4 separate regions of the Homo sapiens genome follow, and regions 1, 3 and 4 are each linked to region 2. The links come from fine-mapping of genetic effects on gene expression. A gene starts in region 2. Each other region holds a variant in brackets. All regions are shown on one strand. Distances are from middle to middle.

What was found. PIP is the estimated chance that this variant, and not a neighbour inherited with it, causes the effect. A credible set is the group of variants that fine-mapping cannot tell apart.
Region 1: its variant is the best candidate, but not a certain one, in a credible set for the expression of NTAN1 in whole blood (TOPMed, PIP 0.54).
Region 3: its variant is the best candidate, but not a certain one, in a credible set for the expression of NTAN1 in left ventricle (GTEx, PIP 0.83).
Region 4: its variant is the best candidate, but not a certain one, in a credible set for the expression of NTAN1 in unexposed skin (GTEx, PIP 0.85).

What each region holds. Positions count from the first base shown.
Region 1 is chr16:15,165,890-15,174,363 of GRCh38, forward strand. No RefSeq gene overlaps it. Among named protein-coding and RNA genes, the nearest start is that of MIR3180-4, 15 kb to the left of the region's middle. The variant T/A (reference allele first, on the strand shown) is at 3,787.
Region 2 is chr16:15,051,511-15,059,184 of GRCh38, forward strand. It overlaps NTAN1 (N-terminal asparagine amidase), which reads right to left and starts at 4,564. Exons shown (of 10, transcript NM_173474.4): 1 at 4,381-4,564. The coding sequence starts at 4,461. It also overlaps a transcript of PDXDC1 not described here. RefSeq lists a silencer at 3,935-4,119.
Region 3 is chr16:15,072,010-15,080,483 of GRCh38, forward strand. RRN3 (RNA polymerase I transcription factor RRN3) reads right to left here. Exons shown (of 18, transcript NM_018427.5): 9 at 7,989-8,087; 10 at 4,549-4,641; 11 at 2,714-2,852; 12 at 941-1,071. It also overlaps a transcript of PDXDC1 not described here. Among named protein-coding and RNA genes, the nearest start is that of RRN3, 18 kb to the right of the region's middle. The variant C/A (reference allele first, on the strand shown) is at 4,962.
Region 4 is chr16:15,301,658-15,310,131 of GRCh38, forward strand. No RefSeq gene overlaps it. Among named protein-coding and RNA genes, the nearest start is that of NPIPA5, 72 kb to the right of the region's middle. RefSeq lists enhancers at 1,566-2,067, 2,071-2,572. The variant T/C (reference allele first, on the strand shown) is at 4,594.

The DNA of each region.
Region 1 (8,474 bases), 110 kb after region 2:
GAAGAAGAAAAAAAAGCATATGCTATTTTCAGAAACGCATTTGAAAATTTGAAAACATCCATGTTTGTGTTCTGAGGATAAAGACAGGTAGAAGAAACATGGGTGTGAATTAGTAGCTGATTGTCTATCCATACCAACTAAATGCCATCATCATCATCATCACCATAGGTATTTGAAGGTTTTTACTACCTTACTTAGTCCTCTAAGGCTGAAGTGCTAGCAGGTAGATATTTATTAGTCCCCTTTTAGAGATTAAAGCACTGATCTCAAGAGGTGAAATAACTTGTCCAGCTAGCAAATAATGGAGCTGGCATCCTGACCCAGATCTGTCCAGCTGCAAAAATCTTTCCTCTCATGAGTTGTTAGCATTATTCCAAACAAAACACTGCCCTAAAAGTGTGAAAATGTCCTCAGTTCACCCCTTCTCTGCAGTGGGACCCTGACATTTAAAGGCACACCAAGAGGAGACAGTGCTCCCTGCAGGGCTGGAGGGTAATATCTGAGGTCTGGGAGGGACAAAATTCACAACCAAGGGTTACTCCCTCCCACCTGTGCCTGACATTTTTCTTTCTAAAAAATCTGCTCATTTCTGTTCTTCTTTCCTCTTCATCTTCCCCCTCTCCCTTTTCAATATTTTATTTCTTTATCTTATTTGGTGTTTTCATTGCCAAAGTAATTCATGCTTACTATAAAAGCATCAAGCAATAGACAAGTGTATAATAAAAAGCAAGAGGTCCAACCCCCAGGAAACTGCTGGGGACAGTTTGGTACCTATCCTTCCACAGTGTTTACTGTGCGCACATCAGTAAATCAGACTTAATACAATGTTACAAGTTATATAGAAGTGCTGAAATATACACCTAAGAAGCCAGCAGCCTTGGCTATAGTCTCTGGTGCATGCATGTGGCATGATTGTGCATGGTTCTCAGAAACCTTGTTGCTGCTCCTATCATTCCTTCCTCTACCAGTCCACAAATGTCTAACTGCCCACCATGTGCGAGGTGCCATGCTCCGTGCTCAGAACACAGCTGTGAACCAGGTGGACATGGTGCCCTTCCTAGAAACAAAATCTAGGCTGCAAGAATGGTGGCTTTAACTCACTTCAAGAAATGCATTCACCAAGCACCTTCTCTGTGCCAGCTTTTGCAGGGGATGAGGCGATGTCACAGATATATCAGACACAGCACTGCTCTGAAATGCTCATGGAATAATAGAGGAGACAGGCTAGAAAATGAGGTCCATTATTTGTGTTTTAAAATTAGGCCAGGCACACTGTTCACAATAGCAAAGACTTGGAACCAACCCAATACCCATCAATGACAGACTGGATAAAGAAAATGTGGCACATATACACCACAGAATACTATGTAGCCATAAAAAAGGATTAGTTCATGTCCTTTGCAGGGACATGGATGAAGCTGGAAACCATCATTCTCAGCAAACTATCACAAGGACAGAAAACTAGACATTGCATGTTTTCACTCATAAGTGGGAATTGAACAATAAGAACACATGGACACAGGGAGGGGAACATCACATACTGGGGCCTGTCAGGGCGTGGGGGGCTAGGGGAGGGATAGCATTATGAGAAATATCTAATGTAGATGATGGGTTGATGGGTGCAGCAAACCACCATGGCACGTGTACACCTATGTTACAAACCTGCACATTCTGCACATGTACACCAGAACTTAAAGTATAATTTTAAAAATAAATAAATAAGGCCGGGCGTGGTGGCTCAAGCCTTTAATCCCAGCACTTTGGGAGGCTGAGGTGGGCGGATCAAGACCAGCCTGACCAACATGGAGAAATCCCATCTCTACTAAAAATACAAAAAATTAGCCGGATGTGGTGGCACATGCCTGTAATCCCAGCTACTCGGGAGGCTGAGGCAGGAGAATTTCTTGAACTCAGGAGGCGGAGGTTGTGATGAGTTGAGATGACACCATTGCACTCCAGCCTGGGCAACAAAAGCAAAACTCTGCCTCAAAAAAAAAAAATTAAATTAAAAAAACTAATAAAATAAAATAAATAAATAAATAATAAAATAAAATCAGGCCAGCTGCAGTGGAACACTCACGTCTTTAATCCCTTTGCACTGTAACCCCTAAGTACTTTGGTAAGCCAAGGCAGGAGGACCACATGAGGTCAGAAGTTCAAGACCAGCCTCGGCAACATAGAAGTTTAATTTAAAAAAAAAATTAAATTTAAAAATAGCCAGGTACAGTGGTGCACACCTGTAGCCCCAGCTACTCAGGGCTGAGGCAGGAGGATCACTTGAGCCCAGGAGTTTGAGGCTGCAGTGACCTATGATTGGAACCCGGGAGTTTGAGGCTGCAGTGACTGATTATCATGCCACTGCACTCCAACCTGGGTGACACAGCGAGATCCTGTCTCTAAGTAATAATGATGATGATAAATTAAAAAATAATAATTTTTATTATGTTGTTGTTACTAACAAAATTTATTGAGCCCTTCCTAGATGTCATACACTATACTAAGTACTTTACAAGCATTAAGTAATTTCATCCTTTTAAGGACCGTTTGAGGTAACTGTGATGATTATTCCCACCTCATAGATGCAGACACTAAAGCTCAAAGAAGATGAGTGCCTTGCCTGAGGTCTCACGGCTGGTGAATGACCGGGCTGTGACTCAAGCCAAGAGCTGTTTGTCTCCAAGACTCTTAAAGACTCTTTTTTAAAACCAGCATGCTATTCCATTTCATGGTATTCTCTTTTTCTCCCTCATTAGCAGATTCCTACAGAACCCACATGACTCTACTGTTCCTGCCCCAATTTATTTTTGCCTGAGTCTCCCCACTTTGGGCAAAAGCCTCGCTTGAACTATATCGATAGCTACAATGACTGAAAATTGTGTCACGTATCACATAGAATCTCTGTTCCCAAGGTACCCAGAGAGACTGAAATAGGTCCGTTAACAGTCGTGTGTTTTACATTCCACTTGGAGGGTTAACATTCAGGGTCACCCTTCTTCTGAGCCTTAAAAACCAGGGGTATCAAAGTAATGAGGGAGTGCGAGCATTCCATGGAGTTTGGATTAATGATCTGTGAGCCTCTGTTCAGCCCTGAATGCGTGTCATTTTTAGAGTTCAGCCTGGCAAGAAAACTTAACAAGAATCCTGGTCAAAAGAAGTCTCGGTCATTTAATGACAAAGGGTAACTGGACAACCTACCACCAGCAATTTATTTTTAGACCAAGTTAAGTCATACTTCTATGCATGACCTCATTCCCATGACTCTCCTGCCCTGCCCCCAGTTACTGTCCTCAGCTCTATGATGCAAATATTCTGCAGACGTGTCTCTGCCCTGCAAGATTCCCTAGACAGCTTTACCTTGACTACAGATATGTCAATGTCCGCCACCATAGAAAGGTCTTTCTGCAGACCGAACTGAACTGATGCTAGCTTGTTCCATCAGGACCCCTTCTTTCACTGTGCAAACTGTCCCCCAAGCTCCTGTGCTCCAATCAGACAATCAGAACTTTCCATTCATTTCAGCAAAGTTCTATTGAGCTTCCACTCTGGGTTGGGTAGTAGTCTAGGCTGGGGACAGAAAGATGAATGAGACCCATGCCTTATGAGACACATGATACTCACAGTGAGGAGGAGAGAGCAGATGACTTACACTGAAACAAAAACAATAATGTTTCACATCCAATAATATAATAATAAACAAGACACAGAGGAAGGGGTTATTTCTTCTCTTCTGAGAGAATAGGAAACAACAAAGATACATTTCTACAGAGAAGGGCTTTAAAGGATGAA[T/A]AGGAGTTTTCCAGGGAGAAAAGGAGAAAAGGCCATTTCTGGCAGAGCCAACCAAAGCAGAAAATTCTGAAAGTGAATGTTTGACAGGAGCTGCGGAGAGGGAAGAAGAGGGTGACACATAATTCAGTAAAGTGATTGTGTTGAACATGGAACAGCAGAGGGGTGGGAGATGAGCATAAGAAGTTGTGATGGTTCCTTGACACCTTGCTTATTTTTGTAATTTTTTTTTTTTAGATTTTGAAATAATTTGATCCTAACAGGAAAGTTGTAAGCTTGGTATAAAGAGCGCTCATATACAGGCTGGGTGTGGTGGCTCACGCCTGTAGTGCCAGCATTTTGGGAGGCTGAGCTGAGAGCATTGCTTGAGGCCAGGAGGTCGAGACCAGCCTGGGCAACATATCAAGACCCCATCTCTACAAAAATAATAATAATAATGAAAGAATTAGCCAAGCATGGTGGTGCTCACCTGCAGTCCCAGTAACTTGGGAGGCTGAAGTGGGAGGATGGCTTGAGTCCAGGAGGTCGAGGCTGCAGTGAGCTGTGACTGTGCCACTGCACTCCAGCCTGGGCAATAGAGTGAGACACTGTCTTAAAAAAATTCTCATAAACCCGTTTTACCTAGTCTTCCTAAAATCGTCAATATTTTACCACACTTGCTTTATCATCTTTTCTTGATACATACATATTGCATTTGTATTTTTTTATGAATTGTTTAAGAATGAGTTGGGGTCATGATATTCCTTTACCCCTAATCACTTCAGTGTGTATTTCCTAAGACCATGGTCATTTTCTTAGGTAACTACCATATAAAGTCAGGAAATTGACATTGACTTAATACCATTATCTAATCCACAAACCTTATTAATATGTCACCAATTTTCCCAATAATTTCTTTCATAGTAACAAAAAGAAAATGTTGACCACCTGTATTAGTCCATTTTCACACTGCTATAAAGAGCTGCCTGAGACTGGGTGATTTATTAAAAAAAAGAGATTTAATTGGCCCACAGTTCTGCATGGCTGGGGAGTTCTCAGGGAATTTACAATCATGGCCGAAGGGGAAACAGGCATGTCTTACATGGCAGCAGGCAAGAGAGGAGAGCAGGGGAAACAGCCACTTATAAAACCATCGGCTTTCTTGAAAACTCACTCACTATCACAAGAACAGCATGGAGGAAAGAGCCCCCATGATCCAGTCACCTCCCACCAGGTCCTTCCCTTGACATGCGGAGATTACAGTTAGAGATGAGATTTGGGTGGGGACACAGAGTCAAACCTTATCACCACCCTATTTACAATTGGGACTCCAACCCTCTCAACATGCCCTGGGCCCTGGCTCTGCTTTTTCTTTGTAGCATTTTCTGACCTCTAACATGTAGCATTATTCCTATTTCTAAAATGTCTCTCCCTTCCCACCATCCCACTAGAATGTAGATCTATGAGGTCAAGAACTTTTGTCCATTTTGCTCACTGTCATATCAACACCCAGGAGAGTGACTGCCACATGAAAGTTATTAAATAAATAGTCTGAATGACTGAATGGCCAAACCTGGAGGTATCTCTTCCCAACCCCTCTTCCTCTTATTTTTTTAAGCAAAAAACAATAGGCTATTTTTTCATGCCAAGAAAACTGAGCCTCCATGTTAGTGTTTTTCTCCCTTTAAGTTCTTGCTTGGGGTTTTCTTATTTTGCCTCCTGATAGGTACGTAGGGTATATTGCAAAGGAGAAGGTTATCCCCAGAACAGCTAGGGCTTCTTCTAAGAATAGCCCAAGTCAACTGAATCTCCCCTGGGTCTCCTATACAGATGTGAAAGTCCTTGACATGCAATGGTATCTATCCCTCTGCAAACAGAGTGAGCATCTTTAGATCTAATTGAAAGATTAAAAAGAAGATCCCCAGCTGGAAGGTCAATTTATAGATTCCACAGTTAAATCAAGCCACATTCTTAAGCACATGGGACACAAACCTTGCATTAAATCAAAGACTTAATCCAAGTTAAGCCACCCTGGATGAGGAGCTAGAGCTGGAGACATGTAATTAACACCAGCCAGTCAGCACCAACTGCTTCAGCTGACAGGTCCACAGCCTGGAAAACCTTGTTACAATTTCCAGGAGGGCTTTGGGGATGCTTGTTCTCAAGTTCCAGAGACGGTGGGCTTTGCTTCTTTCCATCTGATCTCAACTACTGACCACCAGGCTCCCTGCACTCCAGCCCCACCAACCTCCTTGCCACTTCTCAAACATGTCAAGGACGCTTCCATTTCAAGGTCATTTGCACCTGCTCTCTCCCTGAGCTCCCTCTGGACTTTGCTCAAATGTCACCTCTCTCTCACTCTATTTATTTCTGTAAGCCTCTCTCCTCCTTGTCACCTGCTATTCCCTCCTGCTGTATCCCTTCCCGCCACTCTTATCCCACCTGACACACTGCACATTGTACTTATCCATTTACTCTTTCTTCCCCTGAGAAACCCCATGAAGGCAGGACCTGTGCTTTTTCATTCAATGTTCCCTCACCAATCATCTAGAACAGTATGTAGCATATATCAGGCACTCAGTACCTAACTGCTGAGTTAATTTGTTGGCTAGTTATCTGATTGATTGACTGATTGATTGGGTGGTTAATTAAATGGTTAATTAATTTACCTCCTGAGGCTGGGCCCCCATATGGCCACCTAGCTAAGAAACACCATCAAACCGGGGGTGGGTATTTTGGTTACGAAGGCAAATAAGAGCTACCTAGAAATGCCCTGACGCCAGATGTCTTCAATATTCTGAGACCTGAGTCTCTGTTATAGGTTGGTGTCCTTGGGATAAAGTTCAAGTTCTCTGTCCCTTTGGTTCTTACCTTGAGGAACTCCATCTTCCACCCCTGAACTGCTCATCTACCCTCCAGTGAACTAGAACTTTTGTCAGCTCCTCAAAGTCACCAGGTTCTTGCCACATATGACGTCTCTTCCTAGAACAGTCCTCTCCATCATGCCATAGTCTTCAACTCTGGCCAGCGCCTGCTCCCCAGGTGTCCCCTGTCTGCACTCACCACACTCTTCTTGCAGTGAATCACCAGACTGTGGGTTCCACGAAGCGAGAGCCCTTGCCTTCTTCTTCCCCATGGTATCCCAGTGTCTAGGGCATTGCCAGACTCATGCTTGAATATTTGCTAATTTGGATAGGAGTTATCATCTTATTTCACAGATGGAAGTTATGAACTTTTTACACACCTAATGTACGGGAATTTTCACACTAAACAATCCTCCAATTCTCTGTGGATACCAATTGGGTATTCTATAATTAAATTAAACTTTGGCACTGCCTACCTGGTGTTACCGTCAGACCCTATGAGTGAAGGGTTCCAACCCACAAGAAGGCCCCCAACCTCTGAGGCCAGTTGCAAATCCCAGGTTGCTACCTGTACTCCTAAGCAACCAGCTATAAATCGGGGGTTCCTGCAACCCACTCTCAGGTTTGATAATTTGTTAAAATGACTCCCAGAAATCAGAAAAGTGTTTTAATTACTACTACTGGTTTATTATAAAGGATGAAAGTCAATAACAGCCCAATGGAAGGGAAGCATAGGGGAAGGATGGGAGAAGGGCCCCATGCACACCAGCCTCCCAGCTCCATGCACTCACCAACTCAGAAGCTCTCTGAACCCCATCCTTTAGTATTATGGAGGTTCCACTACATAGGTGTGATTAAACCATTGGCTATTTGGTGATTAGGTCAATGGTTGTTGACTTCAGCCTCTCTCCTCTCCTTGAGGTGGGAAGTAAGATTTGGGGTGGGCAATGAGCCTAATAGCTCCTCCAACCTTTTAATCATGAGGTTGGTTTCTCTATAGCCAGCCCCATCCTGAATCTATCTAGAGCTCACCAAGAGTCCCCTCATTTGCGAAAACTCAGGAATCGTTGAAAGGGACTTGTTATGAACAACAAAAGATGCTCCCCTAAACCCATCATTCAGGAAATTCCAAGGGTTTTAGAAGTTCTGTGTCAGGAACCAGGACAAAGACTAAATATATACTTCTTCCTTCATCGCAGAGGTTAAATATAGTATAGTGGTAAGACCACAGCTTTGAAGACCATGAGTTCAAATCCCAACTCTTCCACGTAATGGCTATGTGACCTTAAACAAGTTATCTCAGCTCTCTAAATCTTTTTCTCATTTATAAAATGACAATCATGGTAAATTTATAATTCATTCAACACCGTTCTCAAGGCTAGGAATATGGCAGTAAACAACAGATTGGCCCAAAGTGATATTCGAGCCAAAACCCAAATGGTGAGAAGAATTTCGCCACCTTGAGCCTAAAAGGAAGAACCTTCAAGGCAGAGGGAATATCATGCCTGAAGGTGTTGAGGCAGGAACAACCTCATAGTGTTCAGGAAAGATAAAAGAAGGCCAGGCCGCCAGGCACGGTGGCTCACACCTTTAATCCCAGCACTTTGGGAGGCCGAGGCAGGTGGATCACCTGAGGTCAGGAGTTCGAGACCAGCCTGACCAATATAAAGAAACCCTGTCTCTATTTAAAAAAATACAAAATCAGCCAGGCATGGTGGCACAGGCCTGTAATCCCAGCTACTCAGGAGGCTAAGGCAGGAGAATCGCTTGAACCCGGGAGGCAGAGGTTGCAGTGAGCTGAGATCGCGCCATTGCACTTCAGCCTGGGCAACAAGAGCAAAACTCTGT
Region 2 (7,674 bases):
TAGTTTTTGTACTGTTTGTAGAGATGGGGTCTCCCTGTGTTGCCCAGGCTGGTCTCGAACTCCTGGCCTCAGGTGATCCTCCTGCTTCAGCCTCCTTTGCAGTAGCTGGAACCACAGGCGCACGCCACCACACTTGTGCTAGGATTATAGGCATGAGCCACTGTGCCCAGCCTCTACTTTATTTTTAATTTTTTTTTTTTTTTTTTTAGAGACAAGGCCTCACTCTGTTGCCCAGGCTGAAGTGCTGTGGCCAGATCATAGCTCACTGCAACCTCAAACTCCTGGGCTCAAGCAATCCTCCCACCTCAGCCTCCTTTGCAGTAGCTGGAACCACAGGCGCACGCCACCACACTTGGCTAATTTTTGCTCTTTTAAGTAGTAAAAAGAGTTTAGCCAAACTTCCCTTCTTTGGAAAACCACACAGTCCTACTTTATAAATTCATATGCAAGTAGTCCCAGTTTTCTTAACCTCTAATATGCTCTAGACACTAATATTTGCTTAAAAAAAAAAAAGCTTTTCCCTCAGTCCCTCATCCCTATTTCCCAGTTCCTATTCAATGGCAGTATTCTCTTAACCCAGTGACCAGCAGATTTTCTGAAAAAGGCCAGACAGTAAATATTTGGGGTTCTACAAGGCCGCAGTCTCTGTCACAATTGCTCAACTCTGCTGTTATTATGAAGTGAAAGCAGCCATAGACAATACAGATGTGGCTGTGTTCCAATAAAACTTTATTTATAGGTGACACCGAAGTTTTAATTTCAATACCATTTCCCATGTTACAAAATATTATTTTGATTTTTCTCAACCTTTGAGAAATATAAAGACCATTCTTGGCCTATAGGCTATACATAAGCAGGGTCCGGCCCATGAGCTGTGGCTTGTTGACCTGTGTCTTAGCCAATCACCTAGCTGTGACCTGGGGGATGATCATGTGACCCTCACCCCTGCTGTCCTGTTTATCAATTCTTCCTTTATAAACAGGAGAGGGGCATGAAGGTGATCTGTGAACTGTAAAGCACAATGCTATATAAGAAATTATGAGGCCCAACACACTGGCTCACGCCTGTAATCCCAGCACTTTGGAGGCCGAGGCGAGATGATCGCTTGAGGTCAGGAGTTTCAGACCAGCCTGGCCAACATGTTGAAGCCCCATCTCTACTAAAAATACAAAAATTAGCCGGGCATGGTGGCAGATGTCTGATACTCAGGAGGCTGTGGCAGGAGAATCACTTGAACCTGGGAGGCAGAGGTTGTAGTGAGCCAAGATCGTGCCATTGCACTCCAGCCTGGGTGACAGAGCAAGGCTCTGTCTCTCAAAAAAAAAATAAATAAATAAATAATAAAAGCAGGAACTAAGCTACGCTGCGAGCATCTTGTAGACTCTGTGGAACCGTATTACCCAAGATGTTGCAGGACTGGTTACCGAGTACCCAGTGACTGGTTAAGAGTGACTAAGGGAGGGCTCTAAACAGCTCTGGCCAAAGGAACTTCATGCTGGGATGGCCACCGTCTATATTCACACTGTCTCATTAGTAGCCATGCTGTCTGCTCGGCACTTGAAATGTGGCTACTGCAACTGAGGAACTGAGTTTCAATTTTATCTAATTTTAATTGATTTTTAAGTTAAATCCTAAGTAACCAGATGGCTCGTGGCTACTGTACTGAATAGCGCAGCTCCAGAGTCAAGGGCAGGCTGCCAGGGTTCCAATCCTGGCTTCACCACTCCCAGGATGTGGGGCCTGGGGCCAGTTTCCCAGCCTCTCTGTGCCCCACAGTCCTCATCTGTAAAATGGGAATAGCAGTAACTCTTGCTGTGGTGCTTGGCAGCTTCCACTGTATGACTTATTGTTATTATTTGCTAGTCATAGCTACACACAGGCTTCTAACTGTTGGTACTCCATACTCAGAACACATCGTTACATGAAAAAGACACATTATAAAACAACATATAGTAAGCTATCATTTTTTTAAAAAAAGTAAATTATATACAAAGAAAAACCTTCATTAGGACTTTCACCAAACTAAAGAATGGTTGTAGTCATACTTTTTTTTCTGTATTATTATATTTTGCTTTCCTACAAAGAGGACACCCTGTTTTATTATATAAAAATAATCCAGGCCAGGTGGAGTGGCTCACACCGGTAATCCCAGCACTTTGGGAGGCCGAGACGGGCAGATCACTTGAGGTCAGGAGTTCAAGAACAGCCTGGCCAACATGGTGAAAACCCGTCTCTACTAAAAATAAAAAAATTAGCTGGGTGTGGTGGCATGCACCTGTAATCCCAGCTACTTGGGAGGCTGAGGCAGGAGAATCGCTTGAACCTTGGGAGACAGAGGTTGCAGTGAGCCGAGATTGTGCCACAGCAATCCAGCCTGGGCCACAGAACAAAACTAAGTCTCAAAAAAACCAACCAACCAAACAAACAAACAAAAAACCCAACCTTTAATGTCTCCCTGTTGCTAAGTAGGTGAAAGGTCCATCTAAGCCCCTTGGTCATTTGGTCATCTGGGTACAATCCACCCCTGTAAGGTTACTTTCCATGCTTCCCCTCCTCACCCGGGCTGCTCCGGAGAAACTGGCCAGGACACCCACCCACTGGGCCCTTCCCCTCCTGCCCGCCGCGCCCCAGGCGGCTTGCCCAGCTGCGATGCCCTCACCCTTCTTCTCCTTTTCAAATCTCTCTCGTGCCTGCATCCTTCTTCACTTACACTGCCGCAAATCAAAGTGATCGCCCCCTTCCAAAGTTCCTGTAACACAAACTGGTCCCCAGTACACAGCCTTTCTAGGACATGTCTTCTTAAATAGGCCAAAACCTTCCTTCGAGAGAAGCAGCCCCGGTATGTCACCAAATCTCCCTCCACACTTAAGTGTGCAGCCCGGGACACCCATCTAACTTTCTATCACGGACATTTTCAAACAGACATAAAAGTAGAGCATCCCCTAAATTCTTCAGGCGGCTGAAATTATTTTTCCTTGGTGAGTCCTACTCTTGACTTCGCTAGCTAACAGGACAGTAACACAACGCAAGGATAAAGTGACACGCCACCACGCCTAGCTCGGTGCATGTTGGCTAACAGACGATGGTCGGTCCTGAAATGCAAGCTGAGAATCACACAGAGCTGTCTGCCTTCTCCCCGTCAGTAAGTCCTTGTCACCCTTCAGAACACGTTCAGGGGTCATTTTGTGACCTCATTTATGCAGCAAATCTTTACTGAGCGCCAATTCTATGCCAGGGACCGTCCTACACTCTGAGGATACAAAAGTGAGGACACTACTCTTATCTGCCTTCAGGAGGCTTACATTCTGGCGACAGACCAATAGAGAACAAACAAGCAAACAAAATAATCACAAACTGTACAGCTGTGACAGATGAAACCTCTAAATGCCTTCCCCAACCCAACACACTTGGTCAGGTTCCTGTGCTTCCCATCTCAGAGTGAAAGGGGACGCTTTTTCTTTATGGTACTTAACAGTTTATAGTATCTGAGCCTTCTTCATCAGAAACCATTCTCCCTTCTAGACTATAAACACTCCGAGGGCAGGGACAGTGATCAGTACGTTGCCCAACAGATATTAGGGGCTCGATATTTGACTCTCAAATCAAGGAACTGATTGATTCCCCTTTAACAGGATCTATGGCAAATAGGACGTCTGCCCCCGCCGCCACGCCCCGCTCTTTTTAAAACCTGAGAACCCCCTTGCCAACAGTCCCTGCATAAGCGTGGACAAGAGTTCAGAGATCTATTTGAGCACAAAAGCAGAAAAAACAAAAACAAAACCCGTGCATCAGGGCGTGGTCCTATGGCCCAGCTGCGGAAAGCAGGGCTCTCTCTCCCGGCTAAAAATAACTCGGCGCCCTACGCCCCGGGGGTAGGGGAGAGAGAGGAGGAAGGACTGGGGGTCCCCGCCAAGATCCCCCAGGCCAAACGCTCTCCGAAGCCCACCCTGGAATAACCTCCTGCTTCACGGGGACGCAAGGACGAAGCAACGTTCACCGCAGGCTGCGGGTCCCCGAAGGCGGGCGGCCGGATTTGCCTAAACGGACCCAGCCCTATGGGGGCTGCAGCCGCCCCGTCGGGGAATGGGGGTCCCGGCGTGTCCCCGAGCCGCAGTGCTGTGCGACCTTGGGCAAGTCACCTAACCTCTCTGGGCCCCCGTCCCCTCCCTTGTCAGAGAGTGGCCTCCGGGGCAGCCCGCTGAAGTCTAAAGAAGGCAAAAACTCCCCGACCCCTCAAGGGGAAGACGCGAGCCGACGGCCGGGGCTCCGGATGTGCCAACAGCGCCAAGTTTCAAGTCTGTGTCGCGTGAGGGGGGCGCTAGCCCGCCCTGCAGCTTCCCCTCGGGCCCGCCCCGAAGCCCCGCGCCGCGCCCCACTCACCTCCAAAGGCGGGTGGGCTCGGACGAGGTCCCCGGCTGACTGCGGCAGCCGCACTCGCCGCCCCTCGACGAGCAGCGGCATCGCGGAGGCGGCCGCCCAGGCAGGCCCAGGGAGGCGGCGGCCCCCCGCTTTGCAGCCCCGGGCCGCCCGCCGCCCCCGCCCCTCGGGCCGCGCGTCCCGCCTCGTCCTGCCCCGCCCCACCGCGGGCGCTGCCGGGAAGTGGAGTCCAGGCGGAGGCGGTGCCGGCCGAAGAGACTGGAGAAATCCAGGACATGGCCGCAAGGCCTCACGGGAAATGTAGTCCAAAGCCAGGAAGTGGCCCTGGAAGCAGCGCGCGGCCCGCCTCCTCCGCAAGGGGCGCTGGGAAGTGTAGTCCCAAAAGCGTGGGAGTGAAGGAGCGGGGAAAGGAGAGCTGCCAGGGAGCAGCTGCACCAGCCAAGAGAGCCTCCGGGCGAGTTCCTGGGGCGGGTTCTGGCTCCGACTGCTGCGCTTTAGGTCATTGCTCCACGCTTCCCAGGTGTGTGACCTTCCACAAGCTTGAGTTTGGGACCCTGCTGTGCAGCTCCGTAGGATTGCATTCAATGAGTAATAATAAACCTAATCAGGCGGGCACGGTGGCTCACGCCTGTAATCCCAGCACTTTGGGGGGCCGAGGCAGGAGGATCGCTTGAGGCCAGGAGTTCGAGACCAGCCTGGGCAACATAGTGAGACCCACCCTCCCCCATACCCTCGTCTCTGCCAAAAATTTAAAAATTAACTGGGCACGGTGGCATGCACCTGTGATCCCAGCCACTCTGTAGGCTGAGGCGGGAGGATCTCTTGACCCCAGGAGTGGGAGGCTGCAATGAGCTATGTTTGGGCACTGCAGAGGGACACTCTGTTTCTGAAAATAATAAAAATAAATGTAAACGGTCTTAAACTGAGAAAATAGATCCTGAACTGTGCTAGCCCCACGTACTAAAGAGATCATCGATTAACACGTCGTGATTGGAATGCAATAGGCCACTCACAGGTGGGCTGGGAACCGTGGGGGAAGGATTTGCGGATACTGACTGCAGAGCCCCTAATCTGAGGACAGGTCCCCAAGGTGAGAGGCGTCTCACCGTGGAGCTCTCTTCTAAAACTTGGAAATATTGCTCAAATTCATCCAACTCTGCAGCACATTAACAAAAAGTAATTTTACAAAAGATACAGAGGAGCCACATGATACAGCAGAAACTTTATTAGAATTTTATCATCTGTATTCATCGTCTTCTTTCATAAATCTCCCCCTCAGCTTACACACCCCGTTCAACAAAAATACCAGGAAATTTACTAAAGAAATGACTGTAGAAGATGGTGTTCCCATCGCCAGGTTACCCAACTTCTCACCCAAAATAACTCTATTTCTAGCTACCAGGAAATTATTTCTCTGTATTATTACACCTACATTTCTCATTTGTCCTTACAAATGTAGGAGCTACTATCAACACCTCATTTGTCATTTGTCCTCACAAATGTAGGAGCTACTATCAACACCTCCGTTATAACAGATACAGTAACTTGCTCAAAGTGGTAGAAATAAGTAGTAGAACGAAGACTGAACCTAGCTTTGCATGATTCCAAAGGCAGTGCTCTCCATCACTATAAGATGCTCCTAGACTGTACTGTAAACAACTCATTCTAATGCAGGTGACATTAAGTAAGTCCCAACTAGGAAGCTCGGAGCTAAAAACAGGGTTTGAAACCAGGGTGATCAATGACCAGCAGGCTGGCCTGGAGCAAGTTACTTAACTTCCCTGAACTGGTTTTGTAGAATAGCATGTTTGTTTCACCTGGTACATACTAAACACTAAAGATAGCTATTATTGGAATTGCAGAGCAAAGAGTAGTCAATCAAAGTGAGGCATTTGGAAGTGCAAAGGTGAAGAACAAGGTTCTGTGGGTTCTGCCTGGGGCTGGTGCAGTTTGCCTAACTGGTTTTTCACTTTTGGGTGATCTTTTTTCAAGTAATCTCAGGTTATCAATCTCCTAGGCTGAGTACTGTGTTAAAGGACTAAATGAGCCAGATAACAAGCAGGAAACCACTCCCCTACCTCTCTTCCCACCCAGCTCCACAAATTTTGGTCTACAGGCAATGAGGAAGCAATAGCAGGTGTGTGGCCAGCACTGCGGCTCATGCCTGTAACCCCAGCACTTTGAAAGGCCGAAGGAGGACTCACTTGAGCCCAGAAGTTCGAGACGAGCCTGGACAACACAGGGATCCCTGCTTCTCCAACAAATACAAAAATTAGCTGGGCATGGTGGCAGGCCTGTAGTCCCAGCTACTCGGGAGGATCAATCAAGCCCTAGAGGTCAAGGCTGCAATGAGGCACGACTGTGCCACTGCACTCCTGCCTGGGTGATTACAGCAAGACCGTCTCAAAAAAAAAAGAAAAAGAAAAAGAAAGCACTAATTACAATGTTGGAAAGCCTGTTTCTTTAAGATAGGAAACCAACCTGCCTCACAAGATGGCTGATGGCAAAGTTCAAAGAATATATACAGGGAAATATTTTTTAAATTACACTTTTTTGAGGCCAGACATGGTGGCTCACGCCTGTAATCCCAGCACTTTGGGAGGCCGAGGCGGACAGATTGCTTGAGGTTAGGAGTTCAAGACCAGCCTGGCCAACATAGTGAAACTCCATCTCTACTAAAAATACAAAAATTAGCCAGGCATGGTGGTGCGTACCTGTAGTCCCAGCTACTCAGGAGACTGAGGTGGGCGGATCACTTGAGCCCAGGAGGCGGAGGTTGCAGTTGTTGAGCTGTGATTGCACCACTGCACTCCAGCCTGGGTGACAGAGTGAGACTCTTGTCTCAAAAAAAAGAATGATGAACATTATACAGAACCTTAGTAAATATTTAGTGAAAGGATCCCAATTTGTGTTTCAAATTTTTTAATGTAGAGATGGGGGTCTCACTATGTTGCCCCAGCTGATCTCAAACTCCTGGCTTCAAGAGATCCTTTTGCTGGCCTCCCCAAGTGCTCAGATTACAGGCATGAGCTACCACACCTGGCCCCAAATTATTAGATACATTATAAATCCTACTCAACCATCCAGAGTCAGACTGAAACACACAAAAGCATTTGATGGAAGAAAACATGGTGGAGCTTTGGATGTTCAATTAGTTGAAACAAGAAAAGTATGCAGTTGTACACCAATGAACAGTTCTCAAGGCAGCCTGCACCTTCGAATCACCAGGGGGCTTTAAAAACCATCCATGTCCAGACCCCTCTTCTGGAGACTGATTCAATCAAAGGTTGAGTTGGT
Region 3 (8,474 bases), 21 kb after region 2:
TAACGCACAGCTGGTATTTGAGTTAATTATGCCAATCATGGAAAAAAACAGACACAGCTTCTCACCAAAGGGTGTAACTTCCAACTTCTCCTAAATAGCGCTGTTCTAAAGCTAGGCACACCCATGTGGGCAGACTGAATTCAACCTTCTTTCCCATGACCAACACTCTCCTGATCTCTAGGAAGCCACAAAATCGTTGCAGAGAAGGAAAAGCCTTCTACATTCTTTCCCCCACCAAAAAAAAAAAAAAAAGAAGAAGAAGAAGAAAAGACAAAGCCTAAAGTTTTTAAAATTCTAGATTAATAAGTTGGTTTGGGCTAGTTACAACTCAACCCTTGGAAAGAATAAAGGAAATACAGTTAATTACCCCATATGAGATTTTAATAGAGAAAGGCTTAAGGGAAGAGCACCACCTAGTGACCAAAAGGCAGGATGACATTTTCGGAGCACCTAGCTGGGCTGGCAGGCAGCAATCTGTTTTCTCTCCAAGTGTACTGAGAAGGGAACGTGGGCCAGGCACAGTTGTTCACACCTGTAATCCCAACGCTTTGCGGGGCAGGAGGCGGGCAGATCACTTGTGGTCAGGAGTTCAAGACCAGTATGGCCAACGTGGCGAAACCCCACCTCTTCTAAAAATACAAAAATTAGCCAGGCATGGTAACCTGTGGTCCCAGCTATCGAGAGGGTAAGGACTGAGAGTCCGTTGAGCCCAAGAGGTGGAGGTTGCAGCAGTGGGCAGCAGAGCGAGACTGTGTCTCAAAAAAGAAAGGAAAAGAAAACAAAAAAAGAAAGGAGAATGCGATTTTATTAAGCAGACTAGCAAGTAAGCTCAAAGAAAAGAATTATTTACTTCATGGTCTCCGTCCACCCCAGTTTTTAGGGAAAATTTTTGGGCAAAAACAAAGTAAGCTAAGATAATGTTAATCACATTCTTACTCACCAATTTGAAACTACAGAGGTAAAACATGAAAAACTGTACATGGCAGGAGGCATGGGTGGGCAACAGGAGTTTGTCAAAGATGTTTATCAGGTCGCGATATAGATCCTTTGTTTTGCCGTTATCAACCTTACCTATGGAGAAAATCTGGCATCTCAGTTTTTATAAAGACATATTTTCAAGTTTCATCTGCCATATTTTTTATAAACACAACACCATTAAAAAACAACATTATCCAGCCAAGCACAGTGGCTCCTGCCTGCAATCCCAGCACTTTGGGAGGCCAAAGTGAGAGGGAGCCCGGGAGTTCAAGGGCAGCCTGGGGAACACAGGGAAGCTCTGTCTCTACAAAAAATCAAAAAATTAGCCAGGCATGGTGGCACGCCTGTGATCCCAGCTACATGGGAGGCTGAGGCGGATGAACCGCTTGAGCCCAGGAGGTCAAGGCTGCAGTAAGCCATGTTTGTGCGACTGCATTCCAGCCTGGGTTAGAGTAAGACCGTGGCTATTTAAAAAAAAAAGAAAGACAGACATTATCCATTAAAATACCATTAAAACAAAATGCTACTTTTAGTTTACACAGATTTTCCTCTGAATATAATAATCTAACACCTGCAAGGAAGCAGGCCCTCACCTCACACACTGTGGCAAGGTCAGAAATGCAAACCCTTCTGAAGAGCAATTCTATCATTCGTGTAGCAAAAGACCTCTAATCCGATCATTTTACTGTTAGTAAACAGCTGAATATATAGGCACAAGTATGTTCATTATAACTGTTACTTATCATGGTGAAAACAGTAAAAGACAGTTAAACCCATGTGACCAACAACATTTATTATTACGACTTTTTTTTTTAGAGATGGGGTCTTGTTATGTTGCCCAGGATAGTTAGTCTTGAACTCCTGGCCTCAGTGATCCTCCCACCTTGGCCTAAGTGCTGGGATTCAATAACAATTATTTTAAAACAGGCAATGATATGAGAAAATGTTTATCTTCAGCATCCATGTAAAGGGCAGATTATGAAACACTTGTGTTTAGTGTGACACCCAAATTCACTAAAAAATACTCTCCTACATATACAGACGCTAACAGAAAAGGGAAAAAAGTCAAACTTCAAAATGCTCACAATGGTTCTCTGAAGAGTAGAAATGTGGCCATTTAAATTGTTTTTATCCTTTCCTGTAGTTTCCAAATTCTCTAATCAACATGTATTATTTTTATAACAGCAAGACCGTTAAAACAGTAATGCAGTCAACTCAGATTCCAGTTCTATTATTCTGACTCACTGAGCTCATCTTAAATCTTAGCAATGTGAATGGAAAAAAATTCTGTTTTCGCCTGGCAAAGCCTTTAAAGTTCCATGAAGTCAAGAAGCACATATAGTACTAACACTGGCACAACAATGGTGCCAGGCAAAGACCCTCTAAACTCAATACATAACGGAGCACCATATATTAGTGCACCCTACATCATTCTTCAGTGCATTCAGCAACTTGAGCGTAATTTGATCTAAAACTGGCCAAACTCCATATATAATCTTTCAATACAACAATCAGTGAAAAGACAGAAGACAAATATAACTCAGCCAGAATCCCAGTCCCATTTTCAAGCTATGTGACTGGCAAGTAACTTGACCTCTTTAAATCATCTTAAACTCATACTCAATAGATATTTTTACAGGATTTTTAGTATTACTAGAGATAATGGATGGAAAATGCCCAGCACAAAGCCAGGTACACTGCAGGTGTTCAATAAACAGTAGCTACTGTGATTTACCATCTACATAGCAGACATCCTTCATGTAGGACAAAACCAAAGACATCAGGATGTCCAGGCGCTCGGCTACAGGATGCACCATCTGGTCGAGCCGTTCAGGACCAGCCTTTGTTTCATGTTCAGTTTCTTCATCTTCATCCTTTGAAGACAAAAAGTAAATACTAACATTAAAAAATTCAATGTCAAAGTGGTTTAGTAGGAAAACTGTCATAAGTGATTATTTCCCTTAAAAGATAAAACAAAGAGGCTGGGGAAAGCGGCTCACATCTATAAGCCCAGCACTTTGGGAAGCAGAGGTGGGGGGATCACTTGAGGTCAGGAGTTTGAGACCAGCCTGGCCAACATGGTAAAACTCTGTCTCTACTAAAAATACAAGAATTAGCCAGGTATGGTGGTGCACGCCTGTAATTCCAGTTACTCAGGAGGCAGAGGCAGGAAAATAGCTTGAACTGGGAGGTGGAGGAGGCTACAGTGAGCCGAGTTCGTGTGCTCCAGCCTGGGCAACAGAGGAAGACTCTGTGCCCCACCAAAAAAAAAAAAAAAAAACTAAACTAAAACAAAGAAATGGACCACGCACAGTGGCTCACGCCTATAATTACCAACACTTTGGGAGGCCAAGGCAGGAGGATCACTTGAGCTCAGGAACTTGAGACCAGCCTGGGCAACACAGTGAGACCTGTCTCTACAAAAATAGAAAAAAAGTAGCTGGGTGCGGTGGTACACTGTAGTCCCAGCTACTCGGGGAGGCTGAGGTGGGCAGATCACTTGGGCCCAGGAGGTCGAGGCTGGAGTGGGCCAAGATCACACACTGCCACACTCCAGCCTGGGCAACAGAGTGAGACCCTGTCTCAAATTAAAAAAGAAAGAAAAGAAAGAAAGAAATGCAGACACCTTTCCAGGCAGGGGTCTCATTCAGGGATGTGAATCAGAACCACCAGTGAAATTTAAAATAAAAGCCAAGACTCACAGCACCAGCTTCTGATTCTCATTGAGAAGACCCAATGAGACCTATCCATGCAAAAATCACAGATGCCCCCTACCTCTGCTCCTGGTGCCCACCATGGCGGGTGCTTTTGGTGCCGGGCCCCCTTTTGCAGGTCGGGATATCCACCTCCCCACTGCTGTGAGTACTGGCGGCCAATAGCTCACAGCCGCCTACTTTCTCCAGAGCTGCCCTGAGCAGAAAGGAGCCAGGACCACCCTTGCACTCTTTCCAGCCCCTCCCCCTTAGAACCAATGACTGATTGACAAGGCATCAGAAAAGGACATCTCCTTGGTCTCAAGCTGGGAACAAACTCTGTAGACCAATCCATGCCCCAGAATGCCTGGTGGGAGCAGGCTGTAGCGACCTCCCAAGTGAGACCCGGCCCCCGTTTAGCTCCCCTGCCCTCTTCTGCTCCCTGACACCCTCTGTCCCAAGGGCACCTGAATCCCTGTCTCAGACTCTCCTTCCACTGAACCCAACTTCAGATACCACCCAAAAGAAGTAATGCTATAAAGTGTACAAGTGGTAAAATGCAGAAATTAAACAGGTATGCTTTTCTATTAACCACGCCCTCACAGACAGCATCTGGCTTACAAAAACAAACACTGAAAGTTACAAGAACAAAAGTGAAACATACTTCACCAAACCCAAATTCAAAGCCTTGGAAATAGACCAACTATGCTAAGTGCTAAATGACATGGCAGCAAATTACTCATATAAGGAATCGTTTTCAAGTTTGCTGAACTATTTTAATTCTTTCAATCTAAAGCCTTAACAAAGATGAGCAGCACTAGCTGTTTCCACCCTTTATGATAAACTTCATCTCCACTTTCATTAATAAACTGCTAACCATATTAAACAATCCTTCCGTGGAATCTGTCCCACCACAAGTTTGAGTTGCTGTTTCTTCAGCATCTTCAATACCCTGCCGGGATGCATTCACCTATAACAAAGGGAGAAAAAAAAAGAATAAAAGGATTTAAAAAATACAACTATGTTATTTTGGGATGGAAATTCATCTGATATACGCATGTTCAAGGTGTCCAGATTAGTGCCTTATATCACACCCCAACACAATACACAATTATGGTGCAAGCCTGTAAACTGACCTAGGTCATGAAGGAATTTAAATATAATAAACCAAGCCCCTTTTACTACATACTTATATAAAATCGACAACTATCACATGATGCTCTATGCCAGGCAGCCTCAACAAATTCAACATTTATTCTAGCTCTGATATGGTCTGGCTCTGTGTCCCCA[C/A]CCAAATCACTTTTTTTTTTTTTTTTGAGGCAGAGTTTTGCTCTTGTTGCCCAGGCTGGAATACAATGGCAAGATCTCGGCTCACCGCAAACTCCGCCCCCCAGGTTCAAGAGATTCTCCTGCCTCAGCCTCCCGAGTAGCTGGGATTACAGTCATGTGCCACTGTGCCCAGCTAATTTTGTATTTTTAGTAGAGATGGGGTTACTCCATGTTAGTCAGGCTGGTCTCGAACTCCTGACCTCAGGTGATCCACCGGCCTCAGCTTCCCAAAGTGCTGGAATTACAGGCATGAGCCACCGCGCCTGGCCCCAAATCTCATCTTGAATCGTACTCCTCCTGTAAGTCACACATGTTGCTGGGGGGGGACTGGTGGGAGATAATTTGAATCATAGGGTAGGTTTCCCCCATACTGTTCTCGTGATAGTGAATAAGTCTCAAGAGATCTGATGGTTTTATCAGGGGTTTCCACTTTTACATCTTCCTCATTTTCTCTTGCCGCCACCATGTAAGAAGTGCCTTTCACCTCCCGCCATGATTCTGAGGCCTCCCCAGCCATGTGGAACTGTAAGTCCAATTAAACCTCTTTTTTGGCCAGGTGCAGTGGCTCACGCCTGTAATCCGAGCTCTTTGGGAGGCCGAGGTGGACGGATCATGAGGTCAGGAGATTGAGACCATCCTGGCTAACACGGTGAAACCCCATCTCTACTAAAAATACAAAAAATTAGCCGGGCATGGTGGCATGTGCCTGTAATCCCAGCTAATCAGGAGGCTGAGGCAGGAGAACTGCTTGAACCCCGGAGGTGGAGGTTGCAGTGAGCCGAGATCGCACCACTGCACTCCAGCCTGGGCAAGAAGCGAGACACCATCTCAAACAAACAAACAAAAACATCTCTTTTTCTTCCCAGGCTCAGCTATGTCTTTATCAGCAGTGTGAAAATGGACTAATACAATCTCTATGCACAAGACACTCACAGACACATTGTGTAATAAACATATCGTCAATCAACTGAGCAGAAAAATGATGAACTGCCAGCCAAATGTGCATGATGCAATATTTATTTTGGTATATCACCATTCAAATATCTTAACATACCACTCAAACCATGCCATTTTTTATTATCTATGCTTGACCTTCTTTGTAAACATTCTAAAATGTTCCTTAAGTATATACCAGAGAAAGACTATAAAGAGTACATATACAGTTGGCCAGAGAGGTGCAACTCCAAGTGAGCACTGCACCAGTGAGCCCAAGCTCCAGCTCTTCTGAGACCTTGTTCCATCTTCCTGCTTTCCTATAGCATCAATGTTTTCCTCCACCAAAGCTCCTCTCCCCTCAGTCCACAAACCTGCTCACGTCTCTCCACTCCTAAACCACGCCTCTTAGCCCTGCTCCATCCCCTCCTTCCACCACAACCCTGCACCAAGGTCTCTAACAGCCCCAATTCTGCTTCCCCACCATCCACATCCTCTCCCGAAATGCAGTTTCTGCGTCTTCACTGACATGGTCCTCCAGAAAGCAACAAAGACTACCTTCTAACCACTAAATCCAAGGACTGTTGCTCTTTTCATCTTTCTAAAAAATGACAGCAGTATCTGATGCTGCTGACCAAACTCCTCCTTCCGGCGGATCCTTCCTGAGCATCCAGGCTCTTGGTTTTCCCCATACTTCTGATCACCCTTCTCCTCCCCTGTCCTAAACTGCATCTTTCCAAAGGTTTATGCTCAGGTCCCCATCTGCAGCCACGACTGCCTGTGAGTATTCTCTGGTAGGCTGCCCACCAGCAACTGAACCTGGCCAAGATGGAACTACTCTTCCAACTGCCTCCTCTTCGTATTTTTTTCTTTTTTTTTTTTTTTTTGAGACAGAGTCTTGCTCTGTCACCCAGGCTGGAGCGGAGTGGCGCAATCTCGGCTCACTGCAAGCTCCACCTCCCGGATTCACACCATTCTCCTGCCTCAGCCTCCCGAGTAGCTGGGACTATAGGTGCCCACCACCATACCCGGCCAATTTTTTGTATTTTTAGTGAGACAGAGTTTCACCATGTTAGCCAGGATGGTCTCGATCTCCTGACCTCGTGATCCGCCCGCCTCGGCCTCCCAAAGTGCTGGGATTACATGCGTGAGCCACCACGCCCGGCCTCCTCTTCATATTTCTAACTACCATTAATGGCAACACCAAGATTCAATTCCACAGGGAGCAAAGTTGAAGGATTCCTTTCCCTTACTGTCTGCCTCCCCTCCTCCAAACCAGTCTCAAGCACCAGTTCATCTTTCCTGACAATGTCACTAGAATCTACTACTTCCTTTCATTCCCACTGCACCTTAGTGCGGGCCTCCTTAAACAAAGTTTTAACTGTTTATAATTATAATCTGCCCTTAAGAAAGGCCAAACAGGAAAAATCACTTCCGTAAGAATCCCTTCCTGACCCCACTGTGATTCTATCAGGTTCTCTAACTCATAATGTATGTTTCATTCATAGCATTTTCCACAACCATACTTTTACATTTGGATAACTATGTATTTAACGCCTTGTTCTCCAATCATGAGAAGGAACTGTCTACAACTCCCAGCACATGCACACATTCAAAGAAAGGAAGCAAAGAATGGTGCTAGTGGTTTCTTTTCTTTTTTTTTTTTTTGAGATGGAGTCTCGCTCTGTCGCCCAGGCTGGAGTGCAGTGGCACGATCTCAGCTCACTGCAAGATCTGCCTCCCGGATTCAAGCAATTCTCCCACCTCAGCCTCCTGAGTAGCTGGGATTACAGGCACCCACCATCATGCCTGGCTAATTTTTTATTTGTATTTTTATAGAGACGGGGTTTCGCCATGTTGGCCAGGCTGGTCTCGAACTCCTGACCTCAGGTGATCTGCCTGCCTCGGCCTCCCAAAGTGCTGGGAATACAGGCGTGAGTCACCACGCCTGGCCAAGTGGATTCTTTTCTATCACTGACTATTGTTTCCACATACTGTGATTATAACAAATTCAAGTCAGTAAATGAAAATAAAAATAGATTACTCAATACTTACATCCAACTTGAGTAGTTTTTCAATAATAAGCTCCAGAATTTCATGCCTCAAGGTTGGAAAATATACACTAATCCTTAGTAAGTTATGAACGTAACATTCCTAAAGGAGAAAATGTAAGATAAAACATTTCAACAGAGAATAAACGTTTCACAGTTATGTAAGCAAAACATCAATTACATGACCTTTAGTTTCAAATATTTAAAAAGAAAAAAACAGACTATCCAGCAATACAAAAACTATACTGTTTCTACATGTATTATGTTCGGTATAATCATTTCAATTATTCCCAGTAAATGAAATTTTTAATTTGCATAACTATAGGTTTTTAAGTAGCTGTATTGATAAAACTCATATATCATACAATCACCAACTTAAAGTATACAATTTAAGTTTTTAATATATTCAGTTATGAGACCATCAACATAATCAATTTCAGAACATTTATTTTTCTTTTAGAGACAGGGTCTTGCTCTCTCTCTCAGGATG
Region 4 (8,474 bases), 250 kb after region 2:
CTTGGCCGGGCACGGTGGCTCATGCCTGTAATACCAGCACTTTGGAAGGCCGAGGCGGGTGGATCACGAGGTTAGGAGTTTGAGACCAGCCTCGCCAACATGGCAAAATCCCATCTCTACTAAAAATACAAAAATTAGCTGGGTGTGGAGGCAGGCAGCTGTAATCCCAGCTACTCGGGAGGCTGAGGCAGGAGAATCCCTTGAACCCAGGAGGTGGAGGTTGCAGTGAGCTGAGAATGCACTACTGCACTCCAGCCTGGGCGACAGAGCGAGACTGTCTCAAAAAAAAAAAAAAAAATTACAGGCAAAAGAGGTTGCCCATGTTCTCATCATTGGCAGCAGCAGCATCAAAATATGGCACCCACTCCAGTGATGCCTTTCCAGAAGGAGCAACACTCATGTGAAACCACCAGCTTTGCTTTGTTTTTGTTTTTGTTGTTGTTGTTTTTTCAGAGAGAGTCTCACTCTGTTGCTCAGGCTGGAGTGCAGTGGTGGGATCATAGCTCACTGCAGCCTTGAACTCCTGGGCTCAAGCGATCCTCCTACTTCAGCCTCCCCAGTAGCTGTGGCTACAGGTGCACACCAGCACGCCTTGCTAATTCAAAAAAAGAAAAAAAAGAAAAGAATTGTAGAGATGGGGTCTCGCTATATTGCCCAGGCTGGTCTCAAACTTCTGACCTCAATTGATCCTCCTGCCTTGGCCTCCCAAAGTGGCAGGATTACAGGCATAATCCAGCCATTGTCCCTGGCCTGGCTTTTTTTTTTTTTTTTTTTTTAATGTAGCTCATGACCACAAACGGAGTTTGGTTTCCTTGCTCTCTCTTTTTCCCATTTGGTACTTTTCTTTCTCTCCCATGCACTCCTCTTCAAACCAAAAGTGAATCTTGTTATTTCTTGAAAAATGTGTAGATGTTGAAGGGATGAAAAACCTGAACTCTAACGTCTGACTATCTGAACCCAAATTCTAGCCGCCCCACTCAGTTGCTGTGTGACCGTGAGTAAGTTCTTACCCTCTCTGAGCCTGTTTCTTCACTTGGAAAATAAAAGTATACACATATACAGCTGTTAGCCAGAACTCAGCCTAGGGTAACCTTTCAATAAATATTAGCATCATCAAGGAAATCGCTTGACAAATTAATTTTCATTAAGCAATGAGGGTCTATAACAGTGATGACTTCTGACCAACCAACCAGCCCAATGGCTGACAAAGGACTGATAACACTTTACATTTTTATAATTTCCCTAGATTTCAAATTCTCCATAAGGAGCAAGTACAGTTTTTATAATCAGACATAGAACTCGCGTTCACTCTGCTCATCCTGACCCTAGCCACTGGCCACCAATTTCTGGGTTGGCTGCTCCAACCTGAGAACACAGCTACTGGAATCAGAGGCAGAGGAGCTCCTCTTGCGTTCGTTGTTGGTTTCCCTTGGTTTTGTAAAAATAAATAAATAATAAAATAGGGATACACCCTTCAGACAGCAGGTAACTTCCTAAGCTAAGATGAACAGGAGGAAATTTAAATGTCTTTCCCCGGTTCAAATCCCCTACCCTCTCCCATCTGCCTACCCTGGGCTCCAACACTCGGGAGAAAGACCATAAGTCGTTCAGATGATGCTTTGGAGCTGGACAATCAATCGTGATCAAAAACAGGGGCATGGGAGCCTGGCTAACGTGGAGGGATGGGAGAAAATCAGGCTGAATTAGAGAAGGGTACATTGTGGAGTGTGTTTTACAACGCCATTAGTTCTAAGCACATAAGGATTTCAAATCAAGGAGCATCCACACACACACAAACTCTTGGATTCCTTAAGAGATAAGGCGGATCCAAAATTAGCATATAGATCAGAGGCATGCAGTTGAGTGCTGCTAAAGTGGGCTATAAATGCTTGGGGGAAAATAGTTGTTTTTCTGAAGAAACTTTACAACATTCCAAAATCTTGTCCAGGAAGTGTGAACTCTAAGTCCAATGGACTGAACTGTGTCCCCTCAAAATTGATATGTTGAAGCCTTAACTTCCATTATGATGGTATTAGGAGGTGGGCTTTTTTGGAAGACTATTAGTTTAGATGAGATCATGAGGATGAGGTCTTCGTGATGGAATTAGCATCCTTACAAGAAAAGACACCAGACGGCTTGCTCTCTTGCTCTGTCTCTCCTCTTCCCTCCCTCCCTCTCTACCTCCGCTCCCCCCACCCCCCACTTCCTCCGTCATGTGAGAATGCAGAGAGAAAGCAGCTTTCTGCAAGCCAGGAGGAGGGTCCGCTGGGAGCTACATCAGCCAGATTGTGGCACTTCTCAGCCTCCAAAACTGTGAGAAATAGATTTCTGTTGCTTAAGCCATCCAGTTTATACTATTTTGTTATTTGCAGCCTGATATGGTTCGGATTTGTGTCCCCACCCAAATCTCGTGTCGAATCGTAATCCCCAGTGTTGGAGGAGGGGCCTGGGGGAAGGGGATTGGATCACGGGGACAGACTTGCCCCTTGCTGTTCTCATGACAGTGAGTGAGTTCTCACAAGATCTGGTTGTTTAAAAGTGTGTAGCACTTTCCCCTTTGCTCTCTTCCTCCTACTCCAGCCATGTAGGACATGCCAGCTTCCCTTTCACCTTCTGCCATGATTGTAAGTTTCCTGAGGCTTCCTCAGCTATGCTTCCTGTACAGCCTGCAAAACTGTGAGCCAATTAAACCTCTTTTCTTTATAAATTACCCAGTCTCAGGTATTTCTTTATAACAATGCAAGAAGAGACTAATACACAGCCCAAACTAACTAAGACAAACCCACTCTGACCCATTCTGACACCCAAACTAACTAAGTCCTGGTTTGAACCCTTCACTATTGTGTCACCTTGGGGCAAGTCACCCAACTTCTCCAAATGTTTGTTTCCCACCAGGAAGATGGAAATGACAGTACCTCTCCTTCCTACCCCGCAAACCTATCAGGAGGATCGAAAGGGACATGGCAAGCAAATACTTTCTAAACTGTAAAGTGCTGTGCAAATGCAAGACAGCATTACTCTCTTTTTATGGAGTTATTTATACTCTACCTGGTTACAGCAGAGGATTTATGGTAGATGTCAGTAAGACTCTTTATTTTGAATTTTAAGAGAGAAATAAGAATCTTTGTTATCTGTAGAGAAACAAATATAATTTCCATGGGGCACTAATATAATATAATATAATATAATATAATATAATATAATATAATATAATATAATATAAATATACCTTACCGAATAAACCCTTTGCTCAGACGTAGTGAAAAGGTAAATTCCCCTTCAACCTAATGAAGTTTCAGTCGCTCACATTTTCTGAATTTGCCGAACAGAAATGCGATCAGGTGCCTACTAAGTGCAGTACCCAGCACGATGTCTAACATTGAAACATACAGTGTATACACCAGCACCTCCACCAAACCCATATCCAGCATGCAAAACATACCCTTTTCAAGTCGGAAGCACATAGATAGATTTTTTGGAGTTCAAAAGGTCTTAATGCAAACTGGCTCCAATTCCTTTTTTTTTTTTTTTTTTAAATCTTTGAAACATTGGTTAAGTCTTCTCAGAGCTATCATTTTGCACACATGGAAACTTTAGACCATCCATCCTTCAAGTGTCTTGGGGTAATTAGAGATACTGAAGGTTAAGGACCTAGCATACTACTAATAGATTTTCAACAAATGGTAGCTACTGTTATTTCTCATCATTGCAGATTTAAGAGTGCCAATTCTCAGAGCACTTCAGATAAAAACCCTACCTTTCTTAAGGCAAAAAACAACGGCATTAACTTTTTTTTTTAATTAACCTAAGTTCCCATTATGTTTAGAGAAGAGATCACAATGATAAATGCTTGCCCTGTCTCTCTTTTTTAAAAATTTACTGTTCTTACATGTGACATATACTGTGGTACTTAGTGTCACCCTACAAAGAATAAATTTAAATTGAAGAAACAGAAACACGGGAGAGTCCTTGTTTGGGTTTAATTTGTATCTGACTACAATAAAATTCTATCCTGGAAGCTAGAGTCATAAAACTAAAAGTCAGGAAGGAAAAGAATGGCTAATTAAGCTCCAAAACTAAAAGCTCTTTCTTTATTGCTATTTCTTTAAGTCCTAACAATTGGTCAGGCACAGGGTCTTAGCTGTGCCATTCTAGTTAATGGTCGGTTACAAATTTCCACCATAAACTCATCTTCCTTCTAGCAACTTAAATCTCAGGCACTGGGATGTAATAAGGAGAGAAAGCTCTTAGGCCCAGGGCAATCTCTCTCTCAATCCCAATCTCCCTTCCCCCCATCCCTATCCCACCACAGTAACTGTTAGTAAGAGCTTTTGGTTGCATGCCCAGAAATCTAACTCTGGCTAAATTAATCAAGAAACGAATATACTGGTTTACCCAGCTGAGGTCATTTACGGAAAGGGAATGCTAAGGTTTGAATGTGTCTCCTCCAAAATTCATGTTGAAACTTAATCCTTATTGCAGTGGTATTAAGAGGTGGGGCCTTTTAGGAAGTGATTCAGTCAGGAGGGCTTGGCCCTTAAGGAATGAATTCATGCCTTATAAAGGGGTAGAGGGAACTAACTTAGGCCCTTT[T/C]GCCCTTCCACCTTCCACATATGAGGATACAGCATTCATGCCCTCCAGAGGACACAAGGCACCACCTTAGAAGTAAGGAACAGAGCCCCTTACCAGACACAAAATGTGCCTGTGCCTTGATCCTGGACTCCTCAGCCTCCAGAACGGTGAGAAATAAGTTTCTGTCCTTTATAAGTTATCTAGTCTTGGGTATTTTGTTACAGCAGCAAAAACAGACTAAGACAGGAAGAGAAAAGAACCAGAGCCCCAGGGACTAGAAACAGGACTCACTGCCTCAAAGTACATGTATACTCTCTCTCTCTCTCTCTCTCGCTCTCTCTCTCTCTCTCTCTCTCTCTCTCTGTCTCCATTTCTCTTCACTGTTTGTCTTTGCTCAGCCTTATTCTCCATCTCTCTCCATGTGGGAGGGCAAGTAGAGGCTGGCACCTCCAGATATATATCCTCTCTGTTCAAGAACCACAATAAGTTAATCCCCAGGGAAGATTCTGATGCCTGTGCCACTCCAAGGTCCAACACTGCTGGGTGGATAGAGCCTGATGTTTGACCAGATATGTGCCACTTACCAACCATAGCAGACACTGGCAATGGCCACCCATGTCCCTTGGACCCTCCCCATCCCATACAAGCTGAAGGCCTCCCTCTGCAAGCACCTGCAACTCCCCACCTGAAGGCCTTTTCTCGGCCTCGGCAAGACAGGCCAGAAGTTCAAGGATGTCAAAGTCCCTGAGAGAATCCCTTGGTCAATGTCAGATGAGTGATGAAAGATAAATATCTCAGTTTTCTCAACACTCAGGTGGGACACTTTGAGGTGTGTTCCATGCCATCAACCAAAGCCCATCAAAAGGACCAAGCCCCGGCTGCCCATAGAAGTAACTTACTCATTACCTTGCTCTATTCTGGTTTAGATTTCCTTGTCTCATTTTGCCCTGTGATGGTTAATTTTATGTGTCAACCTGACTGGGACGCTGAGTGCCCAGATAATTGGTAAAACATTATTCTGGGTGTTCCCGTGAAGGTGTTTTCAGACGAGATTAACATTTAAATCGGTAGACGGAGGAAAGCAGGTTGCACTCCAGATGTGCGTGGTCCTCATCCAATCAGTTGAAGGTCTAAATAGAACAAAAGGCCAACCCTTGCCTGAGTCAGAGAGATCTCCTCCTGCCTGAGGGCCTTCAAACTGAAACGTCAAAATTTTCCTGCCTTTAGACTCAAACTGAAACACGGCTCTTTCTGGATCTCAAGCCTGCTGGTTTTCAGACTGGAACTACACCACTGGGTCTCCTGGGTCTCCAGCTTACTGACTCATTCTGCAGATCTTAGGACTTGTCAGCCTCCATAATTGCATACACACACACACATACACACACACACACACATATATATAAAAGTGCATATAGATACATATATGTATGTGAATGTATGTATATAAAAGTGCATATAGATACATATATGTATGTGTATATATATATACACACATACACACACATATATGTGTGTGTGTGTGTGTGTGTACATATACATGTGTGTATATACACACACACACACACACACACACACACACATATATATATATATATATATATGGACCATAGAGAAGTCTCTAAGCCAAAGCTGGGGACAGGGGAATCCTGTGTCTCCTTGGGAGAGGTCTGCTTTAGTGTCCCTGCCATGCTCAGTCATTAGCCAGGAGCACCTCATGGAAGGAAGCATATGGATTCCCCATATGCTTATATATGTGTGTGTGTGTGTGTGTGTGTATATGTATATGCATATGTGTGTGTGTATGTGTGTGTGCTATTCTATTGGTTCTACTTCTCTAAAGAACCCTGACTAATACACTCCCATTCTCCTACTGGTGCTTCCCAGAGTCACCCTACAAATAAACCATTACATGGAAATCCTCATCACAGGATCTGCCTCTGGGAAAACCCAGCCTAAGACATCCATGACTTTCATAGGAGAAGAAAGAGCTCTAGAATTGGCAGCCTTACTGAACCATGTGGAAGAGGAAAGGAGAGCACCTAAACAAAAGGGTATTAACCAATTAAAATAACCTAAACCCACACTTGTCCAAATTGCTGAGCAAGTGGGATGGGATGAAACAACTTTCAACCAGTGTCCAAATATTGCTGTGACTCCTAGACTGGCTTGACACAAAGGCAGTGTCCACCAGCTCTAAACATCCATCTCAACTAAGATTTCTCCAGGAAGGCTAGAACTGACACCCTCTGCTTAGGTTCTCAGTGACTTCACCCAGCCAGCAAAGGAGCTCTTAGGAAGGCAGACAAGCCCTGAAGTCTGTCTGCTCAGACTCCAGCTACCTGCTCTATTCCTGCTTTATCAACCTCTAGCTTAGTCGCTCAATCTCCAGCTTTGCTCCTTCCCATTAGATTCTATGGCTGAACCTGACTGCCATAGTTTGTTTCTCAGATGAATTTAAGGCAAGGGTTGCAAACTTAAATGCACACATGGGCAGACAAGTAACACAAATGAGTGAAGAGTACAGATTAGGGCAACTGGGTCTGGTGGAGACTGTGGCAAACTAGAGAGCACACACCCTATCTAAGGAGGCAGCGAGGACTCAATTTTGCAAGATTTGTGGAATGGACTCCCAATGTTGCCAAACTGCCACTATTTTTTAAAGAGAAGCAGGAAATCCAGGGGTTTTTAAAGATGTAAAATACACAGTTTGTTGAATGCTGGCGACTGATTTTTTTTTTTTTTTTTTTGAGACAAGAGTCTCACTCTGTTGCCCAGGCTGGAGTGCAGTGGCATGATCTCAGCTCACTGCAGCCTCCTCCTCCCACATTCAAGAAATTCTCCTGCCTCAGCCTCCTAAGTAGCTGGGATTACAGGGGTGCACCACCATACCCAGCTAATTTTTGTATTTTTAGTAGAGATGAGGTTTCCCCCTTGTTGGCCACGCTGGTCTCCAGCTCCTAATCTCAAGTGATCTGCCTGCCTTGGCCTCCCAGAATGCTGGGGTTACAGGTGTGAGCCACAGCACCCAGCCCTGATTTTTTTTAATGTAAATACTGTATGAACCCAGACAAATGTTCTGCCAGGCCAGTGCTGCATGGCTCACCACGTGGTGGCCCTGAGAATGGGCCTCATCGACCTGCCTCTACTGGGAGTGTAATTAACCAGGGCCCCAGCTGCTGCGCTGGGGAATCCATATGCTTCCTTCCATGAGGTGCTCCTGGCTAATGACTGAGCATGGCAGGGACACTAAAGCAGACCCCTCCCCGGGAGACACAGGATTCCCCTGTCCCCGGCTTTGGCTTAGGGACTTCCCTATGGTGTTCGCACCCTAACTTTTTTCTCCTCTCTCTTTTACTCAGAGTCAGACTTGCATTACTGTCTCAGGTTCTCCCAGCTTTATGTGGCACCTTCTTTGCTTTCTCTCAAGGGCATTTCCCTTAATAAAAATCACATATGTGTAATCCTGTATGGGAGTTTGTTTCTCAGAACTGGGCTGACACACCATCTTGCAAACTCTGCTTTCGGCATTCAGCTCACACTTACTTACACCCTCCAAACTCCAACTATTTAGGGCTAATTCCATTCCAGCTCCCACCCGTTGAATCCCTTCCCCCTCCCCCTGCTTCCTCCTCCCATTCTGCTTTCCTGGAAACAGCATTTCCACTTACTTTTGAACAATGGTCCTTCCTTCACTGTTCATTCATGGAGTTTGGATAGCACCATCTTCTAAAGCTAGGGCTGAGCACATGATCAGGACTGACTAATCACCCTCTTCTACTTCCTTAGCCACAATAATTCGTTCAGAGATGGGCACCTGACTCTTACAATGCAATGAGAGTCAGCTTCTTATGCCAGTGCTTTTGGCAAAGGTAAGTTCATTTTCCCCTGGGATTACTAAG